Regions from separate parts of the Homo sapiens genome. Here region 1 is linked to region 2. The links come from fine-mapping of genetic effects on gene expression. A gene starts in region 2. The other region holds a variant in brackets. All regions are shown on one strand. Distances are between the middles of the regions. Region 1 overlaps TOMM70 (translocase of outer mitochondrial membrane 70). Region 2 holds the start of NIT2 (nitrilase family member 2).

The links. PIP is the estimated chance that this variant, and not a neighbour inherited with it, causes the effect.
Region 1: its variant is fine-mapped to the expression of NIT2 in blood mononuclear cells (TOPMed, PIP above 0.99).

Annotation. Positions count from the first base shown.
Region 1 is chr3:100,364,628-100,370,010 of GRCh38, reverse strand. It overlaps TOMM70 (translocase of outer mitochondrial membrane 70), which reads left to right. Exons shown (of 12, transcript NM_014820.5): 10 at 876-973; 11 at 1,845-1,967; 12 at 4,294-5,383. The coding sequence ends at 4,447. Among named protein-coding and RNA genes, the nearest start is that of NIT2, 33 kb to the right of the region's middle. The variant C/T (reference allele first, on the strand shown) is at 2,378.
Region 2 is chr3:100,332,136-100,337,518 of GRCh38, reverse strand. NIT2 (nitrilase family member 2) reads right to left here and starts at 2,762. Exons shown (of 10, transcript NM_020202.5): 1 at 2,721-2,762. The coding sequence starts at 2,727. RefSeq lists silencers at 1,740-2,034, 2,433-2,762 and enhancers at 2,003-2,082, 2,203-2,262, 2,283-2,332, 2,426-2,994.

The DNA.
Region 1 (5,383 bases), 32 kb before region 2:
AAAGTCATCTTATAAATAACCGGGGTTAACTGAATATGGGCTAGGTATTATAGATAATATTAGGGAATTATTTTTGGAGATATATTAGTTGAAGCAGTTATAGCTGCTTTTTAAAAAATCAATAATTTTAAACAAATAGCTCTGAAGACATTTAACACATACATCTTAACTTATACTTCCAAATGAATATTGCCCTTAAGATAATTCCCTGGCCAGGTGCGGTGGCTCACTCCTGTAATCCTAGAACTTTGGGAGGCCGAGGTGGGTGGATCACCTGAGGTCAGGAGTTCGAGACCAACCTGGCCAACATGGTGAAACCCCATCTCTACTAAAAATACAAAAATTAGCCAGGCAAGGTGTTGGGCGCCTGTAGTCCCAGCTACTCAGGAGGCTGAGGCAGGGGGATCACTTGAACCCAAGAGGCGGAGGTTGCAGAAAACAGAGATTGCGCCACTACACCCCAGCCTGGGTGACAAGAATGAAACTCTATCTCAAAAAAAAAAAAAAAAAAATTCCCTTGGGCTGTATTATGATAAATTATGAATAAGTGATGTGACTGTACCTATGAGAATGTGATATTAGAGCTGTGACTAAGAATGGGATTATCTGTATTGAACAGTTTACCAGAGATTATCTGCTGTGGCATATAACTAACCACTTGCTGAAGAAAGAGGATAGTTAAGATTTCATATTTATAGCAGTGCCACCTAAAAACTCCGATAATTAAGATGTAAAATGTAAATCAGTCTGTATCCCCAAAACGTGATAATTTTGTAATAATGAATGAAGTAAATTTTTATAATGAATAATAAGTATACTTTTAACTGCTTAGGTTGACGGTTACCTTAATATAACTGAAGTATCTCCTCACATAGGCATTAACAGATCAACAACAGTTTGGTAAAGCTGATGAAATGTATGATAAATGTATTGATTTGGAACCAGATAATGCTACAACATATGTTCATAAAGGGTATGTATTTTTGTGATTGTTCCAATGAGATAATAAATTTCTTGCATAGTAATAAAATGTATTTATTTTGGCCACTGAGGAAGGGGACTGTGGTAGAGAAGTTAATTGACAAACTTCTTAATGCTCCTAGATGTCTTTTCATTCTTACAGAAATTAGTTAAGGAGGCCAGGCGCAGTGGCTTACACGTAATCCTAGTACTTTGGGAGGCCGAGGCAGGCAGATCATCTGAGGTTGGGAGTTCGAAACCCTCCTGACCAACATGGTGAAACCCGGTGTCTACTAAAACTACAAAAAATTAGCCAGGTGTGGTGGCACATGCCCGATTCCCAGCTACTCAGCAGGCTAAGGAGTGAGAATCACTTGAACCTGGGAGGCAGAGGTTGCAGTGAGCCAAGATTGCACCACTGCTCTCCAGCCTGGGCGGCAGAGTGAGGCTCTGTCCCAAAAAAAACAAAAAGAAAGAAATTAATGTACTATTCTTGCTCTGTGTTAAGGGTTTTAATTTCAAACTGAACATCCTGTCAGCTGTTGGCTTATATCCAAATACGAAGCATACACAAGTGTTCGTGTCCTTGCGTACTTGAATTATCCTAAGAAACTTCACTTAAATTTATATAAAGTGAAAAATAAGGGATGCAAGATTGGTAATAGAGCCTAGACCATTGAACACTTTTTGTAATAAGGAACTTAGACTAGCAAACCAATATAAGCTGAGAAAAAAAACACAATTTGATGCTGATTATATATTGCCTTATAAGTTATAAGTTAACTTATAAGTTCATTGAAGGCAGAAATTGAGTCATATTAATGTGTGTGTATTCCTACTGATACTGGGCCATGGTCACATCTGACATTTTTTTGCATTTGCAGTTTACTTCAACTTCAGTGGAAGCAAGATCTGGATAGAGGTTTGGAACTTATCAGCAAGGCTATTGAAATTGACAATAAATGTGATTTTGCCTATGAAACCATGGGAACTATTGAAGTACAAAGGTAACTTCTGGAGTCTGTTAGGAAATATATGGTAGCTCCATAGATATTTAGCTTTTTGTTCTTATTACGTACATGTTAAAGTCTGTTATGTTCTTTCCTCTTTTCACCTGTATTATTCACGTTGGAAAAAAAAATGTGCTAAGGCAGTGACATAAGGATTGGTAGCCAAGTTGCCAGAAAATCTGGACCCTCCTCCAAAGAAGCATCCAGCCAAATGGCTGGGCAAGTTGCAACATCAACTCAGAGCCCCTGAATTTTCTTTAAAATCAGAGTTGGATAAGAACATTTTTTGCAGCTCTGTCCTTAACCTCTTATTTTGTGTAAGTGTTTATCCAGAGTTGCTCTTAAGATCCACCATTAAAAGGTGACAGCTGTTTTATATATGGGATTTATTGTATACCATCTTAATA[C/T]TGGTATTGCCATTCATTTGAGTTTCCTACTTTAGGCCAAGTATTAAACTTTAGATGTTTCCTAAGTACTATTTCAATTAATCTTCATCCCCATCTTTATAAAGGTGGAGATTATATGATCCCTAATTTAACTGATGCCCAGAGGGCTTAGGTTTACAAGGTTGCACAGTAAGCCAATAGAGAAGACAGGGTTTGAGCTCATATATCACTGATACCACAGTCACTGATCTTGGCATTATCACTTGTCAGGAAGCAGCATGAGTTTTCTTAATTCCCTATCATTCAGCCCCTCCTGTAGTCCTCTCCCTGCTCTACAGTAGGCAGAATATATATAGGCTGGTAAAAAAAAAATTGTGTTTCTTTTAACCATTCTGTACCCACAGTGGCATGTAAATATTAAGTTTTTTTTTCTTCTTTTTATGAGACAGAGTCTCCAGCCCAGGCTGGAGTACAGTGGCACAATCTTGACTCTGCAACCTCTGCCTCCCAGGTTCAAGTGATTCTTGTACCTCAGCCACCCAAGTAGCTGGGACTACAGGCATGCACCACCATGCCCAGCTAACTTTTTGTATTTGTAGCAGAGATGGGCTTTTGCCATGTTGGCCAGGATGGTCTCAAACTCTCGGCCTCAAGTGATTTGCCCATCTCAGCCTCCTGAAGTGCTGGGATTACAGGTGTGAGCCACTGCACCCAGCCTAAATTATTTCTTAATTGCTAATTTGTTAATGTGAATAAAATATTCTTGTACTAGAATAGGATAGGGTGGTAGTTCTTAATCTTTTTTGAGCGAAGCTGTGGATTCTTCTTAGAATAATGCACACAAAAACACTTTGCTTTTAATTCAAGGCTTTCATAGATCCTGGGTTAACTAAAGACCTCTGATAGGGTTTGATGGAATTTTGTTCACGTTAATTGAACTTTGAAAAAATCCATTCTGAACCTTACAATTAAATAAGTGAATTTGAATAAATGAAATTGCAGATTATCCTAGGATTTTGCAGATCTGCTAGCTGTTGGCCTAATGCCAGAACATGAACTCTTGAAAAAAGTTTTTTTTAAAAATAAGCCTATCACGTTGCCATATATTATAATGGGGGATTAAATATAGTCACCCTAGTGGTACCTCTTACTGGCATATAAAGTCTAACTGGCACATATGCCAATAAAATGTACCTTACTAACATGTATGCCAGTTAGACTCTGTATATGCAGGTATATATATATATAGTAGGGACTTAATATTCTTTGTAGGATTGCATATATATGTAGCTAATACTAGTTACTTAAAACAGTTGGTTCTTAGATAGCTGTGGATTTGACCAGAATCAGGCAGAGGCAATAAATCTGAGTATTTATTGAGTAGGTGTGAGGAACTCACATAGACTGCCTGAAGAGTAGAGATGCATGGGGTTGGGGATGTGCTGGTAAGAGATGAAACAGAAAGAGGTGGGCCCACATCAGTCTGTGAAGGTAAGGCCCTTGCATGTCATTAGTGTCCCGGTATTATGTCACTGCTTTCTAAAGGAGTCTCATGTTAACAGTAGAAACATGTAAAATTTAGGAACCAGACGGAATTGTGATTTTAAATAAGCCAATCAATTTCCCTAGTCTGACTGTTCTTATCAGTAAACACAGAATACAAGGGATATAATGTAAGCACATAGTATTTGTAATAGTAGTTGACATTCATTGAGTGCTTTCAATGTGGTAGGTACTCTTGTTTATTTTAAAAGAAGCATTTTACTAGAATCATAGTAGAAACTTAGTGGTCAGACTTCATGTAGCATCACTTACAACCTTCATTGAATATTGTGAAGAAACTTAGTGGTCAGACTTCATGTACCATCACTTACAACCTTCATTGAATATTGTGAAGTGCTTGTTGAATCTGAGACTTAAAAATTTTGTTCTTTTAGAGGAAACATGGAGAAAGCCATTGACATGTTCAACAAAGCTATTAACCTGGCCAAATCGGAAATGGAGATGGCCCATCTGTATTCACTTTGCGATGCCGCCCATGCCCAGACAGAAGTTGCAAAGAAATACGGATTAAAACCACCAACATTATAAAACAGGGGGAAAGCAGACTGACCCTCTTTTTAAAAGTTTACCCCCTCTTCAACTGAACCCTAAAGACACTGTCATGAACTGTGTTGAATGGTGGAAATCAGTATTTCTGTTTGTGGTGTTGTTATTTGTTACATCTGTTTCATGTCTAGGTGTTGTGGGTGTGGCTGTTGAAGGAAGTTTGCAGTCTTGCAGCTTTTATTCCCTGTGCAACAAAAGATTAGAACATGTTAAAGGGATTTTTAAATAAAGTTGCAAAGAGTACAAATGATAATTGGCCATGCAAATAAAAACTGATTTGTTGATTTTTTTTTTAAGGGGGGTTGGCAGTTGATTATGTTCTGGATGATTCCGTCTATATATGTGTGAATAATGTAAGTATTTTACAGCATGTTGATTTTTAAATTAACGTAGTAAATGCTGTAAAATAGATTTATATTCAGTTAACCGCTTTCAGTTGATTTTTTGAAAGAAACAAAGGTTAAATGGGGGATTAAAGTAAAATTGAGAGACCCTTTAAACCATTGTCAGCATGCACAATGCCTCTGATTCTGCAGTTTTAGAAACTTGGTGGCACTTATTAATCCTCTTGGCCCCTTTCCACTCTAATGGATAGTGTACATTCTTCTTAAAGTCCACAACAGCAGATTTTCTTGCAGTAAATTATGCAGATGCAAAATATTCTAATTGATATATGTGTTGGAAGACTGAGTATTGATGGGGGAGTGGACCAGACAAAGAGGTAAGATGAAACAGTAGTGTGTTTATAATTGTCTGTGACTATTTTCTATAATAATTAGTACTATTTAATGGTGAGCTTTTAAAAATGTAGGATAGAGGGTACAGTGGCACTGTATATACTATTTATAGTCTCAGCTACTAGGGAGGCTGAGGCAAGAGGCTTGAGACCAGGAGCTCGAGGCTGTAATGTGCCATGAT
Region 2 (5,383 bases):
TCGCGCCACTGCACTCCAGCCTGGACGACAGAGTGAGACTCAGTCTCCAAAAAAATAAATAAATAAATAAATAATTTTCCTTGTTCGAGTTACTAGTGTTGTTTCCATGTCCTGTCTGGACCCTGATGGATACATAGTTCCTGCTTATGGTCTGGTGGGACGCAGCAGTAAAGGATCCAAAGCACATTATAATCTATGAAGCTCTGCAAAACTTCAGGAATTATTAGTGTAGGGAAAAGAAAGAGCGATCAGATTATTACTGTGTCTGTGTAGAAAGAAGTAGACATAGGAGACTCCATTTTGTTCTGTACTACGAAAAATTCTTCTGCCTTGAGATGCTGTTAAACTATAACCTTACTCCCAACCCCGAGCTCTCTGAAACATGTGCTGTGTCCACTCAGGGTTAAATGGATTAAGGGCTGTGCAAGATGTGCTTTGTTACAGATGCATGAAGGCAGCATGCTCCTTAAGAGTCATCACCACTCCCTAATCTCAAGTACCCAGGGACACAAACACTGCGGAAGGCCGCAGGGACCTCTGCCTAGGAAAGCCAGGTATTCTCCAAGGTTTCTCCCCATGTGATAGTCTGAAATATGGCCTCGTGGGAAGGGAAAGACCTGACCGTCCCCCAGCCCGACACCCGTAAAGGGTCTGTGCTGAGGAGGATTAGTGCAAGAGGAAGGAACGCCTCTTTGCAGTTGAGACAAGAGGAAGGCAGGCATCTGTCTCCTGCCCGTCCCTGGGCAACGGAATGTCTCGGTATAAAACCCGATTCTATGTCCCATCTACTAAGATAGGGAAAACCGCCTTAGGGCTGGAAGGGGGACAGGCGGGCAGCAATACTGCTCTTTAAGACATTGAGATGTTTATGTGTATGCATATCTAAAGCACAGCACTTAATTCTTTACCTTGTTCATGATGCAGAGACCTTTGTTCACGTGTTTATCTGCTGACCTTCTCTCCACTATTATCCTATGACCCTGCCACATCCCCCTCTCCGAGAAACACCCAAGAATGATCATAAATACTAAGGGAACTCAGAGGCCGACGGGATCCTCCGTATGCCGAACGCTGGTCCCCTGGGCCCCCCTACTTCTTTCTCTATACTTTGTTTGTGTCTTTTTCTTTTCCAAGTCTCTCGTTCCACCTAACGAGAAACACCCACAGGTGTGGAGGGGCAACCCACCCCTTCAATTAGTAATGGCCTGCCCGAACTTCCCATCCCACCTCTGCTCCAGAGTCTGAAAATCCTACCATTAGAGAGCTATCTCTTTTGGGTGTTTCCTGTAACAACGCAAATGTCTCCAGAAAAGGCAACAATGACAAACCCTGGCCTCTGATGAAGGCCTGTTTGGCTCAGGGTTAACTAAAAGGAAAACTCAGATGTCCCATTCCTTGATCTATCCTAAATATAGTGAGAAGCACTAAATTTAACCCTGAAGGCAGCCTGCTAAATAGTTATAGAATCTGAAGGGAAACTAAAACAGGAAATAAAAGCTGGGATTATTCTGGGGCAAACAGATATTTTGAGCTGTTATCAGAACAGCAGATAAATCCACTAAACGTCTCCCCTCCATTTCCCAGCGTTAAGCCATTCTCCCTCCTCAGCTTCCCAAGTAGTTTGGGACTAAAGGGGCGTGCCACCACACCGGGCTAATTTTGTATTTTTTAGTACAGACAAGGTGTCGCCATGTTGCCCAGGCTGGTCTCCAACTCTTGACTCGTGAACTCAAGCGATCCTCGTGCCTCAGCTTCCCAAACTGTTGGGATTACAGGCGTGAGCCACGTGCCGGGCCATGTCTGTGCTTCCGAGGGTGGGAAAGATAAAGCTCACCATGGCTACGCTGATGGCTTCCTCTCCTACACATCTCACCCACAAGGGCGGGGTCCTCAACTAAGCTTAGGACTGCCTATCATTCTGCAAATGACCCACTCTACAGACATGCTGCAGCAGGGAAACCCCGCCACTGGGCAGTTCCTCATGCTGAGGAGGAGACGCCCGTCACTCCATCTCATCTGTAAAGTGAAGACTTTTAAGGCTGCCCTAATATTCATCATAATCTAACAACGAAGACCTTACCAAGGGGCGGAAAAAAAGAATAAAATACTGTGAGCGAAGGAAACAACAAAGGAATAACATTTAAAGCAATGTGCCAGGTCCTTCACACATTAACATCATTGTGTGAGGTATCATTAACATCATTTTACAAATAAAGAAACAGGGGACTTGCAGGGGGAAAGCTGCACAAAGTCACTGAACAAAGTAAGTGACACAGCAAGAATCCAAGTCAAAATCTGGAGCTGGAAAGTGAGTGGGGAGACGAAGAACCGCCTGGGCACCTTTGTGCAGGGCGGGGCTGGAGGAGGTCACGCAACTTGAAAACACCCAAGGGAGTTGGATCCTACCACCGCGGCCCACACCGTGGAGAAATACACGTCCATCAGCCTCTGTCAAGCAGGACGCGGCGGGTGCCGGCGCGGCCGGGTGGCCTGGTGCTTTCTGGGCCTCGCCCGCCACCCCGGAAGCCTGGAATCCCGGGAGTGCGCCCGGCCGCCCGGCCACGCGATCCCGGACCCACGCGGACGCCCGCCTCAGGGAAGGCCGCGCACGGCGGGGACGCGGGGCGGAGGGGCTGAGCCGGCCGAGCCACCGCCGGCGCCGCTCCAAAGCCTCCCCCGCGGCCCGAACTCGAGCTGCAGCGCGCGGCCGCGCCACTTACAGGTCATGACTCTGCAGACAAGCACCACCTGCGGCGCGGACTGAGCGCTGGAGATCCGGCGGACCGCGGCGTCGCTACGGTGGGGCGGGGACCGCGTCAGAGGCCCCGCCCCACCCCTCCTCCTGGCCCCGGCCGGGAGGAGAGAAGGGTCTGCGTTCATTCCAGTGCGCCTGTAACACCAGGACGGACCAACGAGAAATGGTTAATTGCAACACAGTCCGGAAAAAGCATGCCTCGAAAGGCAAAGGGCAAAAGGGAACGGCCTAAGTCGAGGTGGTGTGCTGGTGAATGTCTTAACAACCAGACTTTTCAGGGAGGAAAGCCCTGATTTGTAGCGTTTGCTGATTCTCCGCAAAAGGACTGAACTTCTAGCTGGTTGAATCACCTCTGTGGCCAGGTTAACACCGTATGCTGATGGGCTTGAGCTATTTGAACAAGTCTCTGTGACGGGGACGGAATGACCCTGGTTGGTTTAGGCACGCGAGACGTCTGTAAAATCTGACTACAAGGCTGCTAGGCCAACGGGAAAGATGCTGAGGGTTCAACGCCATGCCCTCAACAAGTCAGTCCTCGAATACATTGTCATCTCTTTGCTAATATCCTTTTTTGTTTGTTTGTTTTAGACAGGGTCTCACTCTGTCATCCAGTCAGGAGTGCAGTGCAGCAGTCTCAGCCCATTGCAGCCTCAACCTCCCGGCTCAAGCGATCCTCCGTCCTCAGCCTCCCAAGTAGCTGGGACTACAGGCACACACCACCACACCTAGCTATTTCTTTTCCTTTTTTCTTTTTCTTTCTTTCTTTCTTTTTTTTTTTTTTTTAAGTTTTTTACTTTTAATAGAGGTGGGGCCTTGCTATTTTGCCCAGGCTGGTCTCAAACTCCTGAGCTCAAGACCCTACTGCCTTAGCCTCCCAAAGTGCTGGAATTATAGGCGTGAGCTGCTGCGCCCAGCCTATAGACTATGATTTTTGCATTTTTATTTATTAGATTGCTTTTTAATTTTCGTGTTTTGTGTTTTTGTGCCTTGTCAGACTTGTGGAACAAAAATCCAAAACTTAACCACCTTTTGGAATGCCCCAGAATAGTTTATACTGAAACAGATCTTGGTTTGTAAAAGAACACTATAAAAACATTTTGGGGGCAACTAGGGAGATTTAAATATGAACGAGATATTTGATGCTTTTCTGAATTATTTTGTGTGCTATAGTGTTGTGCTTGTGACAATTCTTTACTCTTAGAAAATGAGGAAGTATTAGGGATGAACCATCAGAATGTTTGACTTGAAAATCGTCAGCAAAAAGAAAACACATAAGATAAAGCAAATATGGCAAAATGTTAATTATTAAATCTAGGAGGAGGACACAGCTGTTCATGGTACTAGATTAAAACTTTGTAGAAGTTTAAAATTTTAAGCTTTCATAAAAAAAAATTGGGGGGAAATACATAGCAGTTATGGTCTTTCTGCAGCTTAAGAGACTATCTGGACTTGGCTTTGTAGCAGGAAGATCTTTAAAAACCTTTTCATTTCTGCTATGCTTATTAACCTATGAGGTTTCAGGGTCAACCTGTGGTCACTTACAACCTGTTAAAAAAATTCATCTAGATTTCCAAATTTATTGGACTAACATTGTAACTAATAGTGGTCCTAAACCTGGCTGGAAATGTTATTTGAAGTGCTTGTTCAAAATGCAAATTATTTCATTTTTTTAGAAGTGGATTCTTACAGTGTTGCCCAGGCTGGTCTCAAACTCCTAGGCTCAAGTGATCCTCCCACTTTGGCTTCAAAAAGTGCTGGCCTTATAGGCATGAGCCATGGCATCCAGGTGGAGATGCCCAGTAGGCAACCGGACCAAAGCCTCAAGCTCAGAAGATGTCTGGGCTGGAAATTGACTTGGGAGTCACCAGCAGTTTTAACTAAGAGGAAGCTCTGAATTTGGATGAGAACACACAAGCGGAGTATGAAAGGCACACGCAAAAGAAGAAGGGCCTGTGGAGCCTGGGAAGGAGCCATTAGAGGAGAAGGACCAGGCCGGGCGCCACTGCCTGGTGGAGGAACAGCTGTGTCCTCCTCCTAGATTTAATAATTAACATAATCCCAGCACTTCAGGAGGTGGAGGCAGGTGGATCAAGAGGTCAGGAGCTCGAGACCAGCCTGACCAGCATGGTGAAACCCCGTCTCTACTAAAAATGCAAAAATTAGCTGGGCGTGGTGGCACACACCTGTAATCCCAGCTACTCAGGAGGCTGAGACAGCAGAATCACTTGAACCTGGGAGGCGAATGTTGCGGTGAGCCGAGATTGTGCCACTGCACACCAGCCTGGGTGACAGAGCCAGACTCCATTAAAAAAAAAAAGAGAGAGAGAGAAGCAGGACCAGGAGAAGGCCATCAAGACCAAAAGCCTATGGGTACTGTGTCCCTCTGTCACATGCAGGGAAACTGCTGACTTGGGCACTAGGGGTGTTCCTAGAAAAGGAAAAGCTAAATGAAAGTGCGCTTTTTAAACCTTTCTTTAGAACTTTCTGGGCACAATGGAAAAGCTAGTCACTGGGTTCTGGTTCTGGCTCTGACACTGATTAGATGTTAATACCTAGGGCAAATCACCTCACCCTCAGGACCTTTTCCTCACCTGTATGTGAAAGGATTTAGAGGCAAAGGAAGAAGAA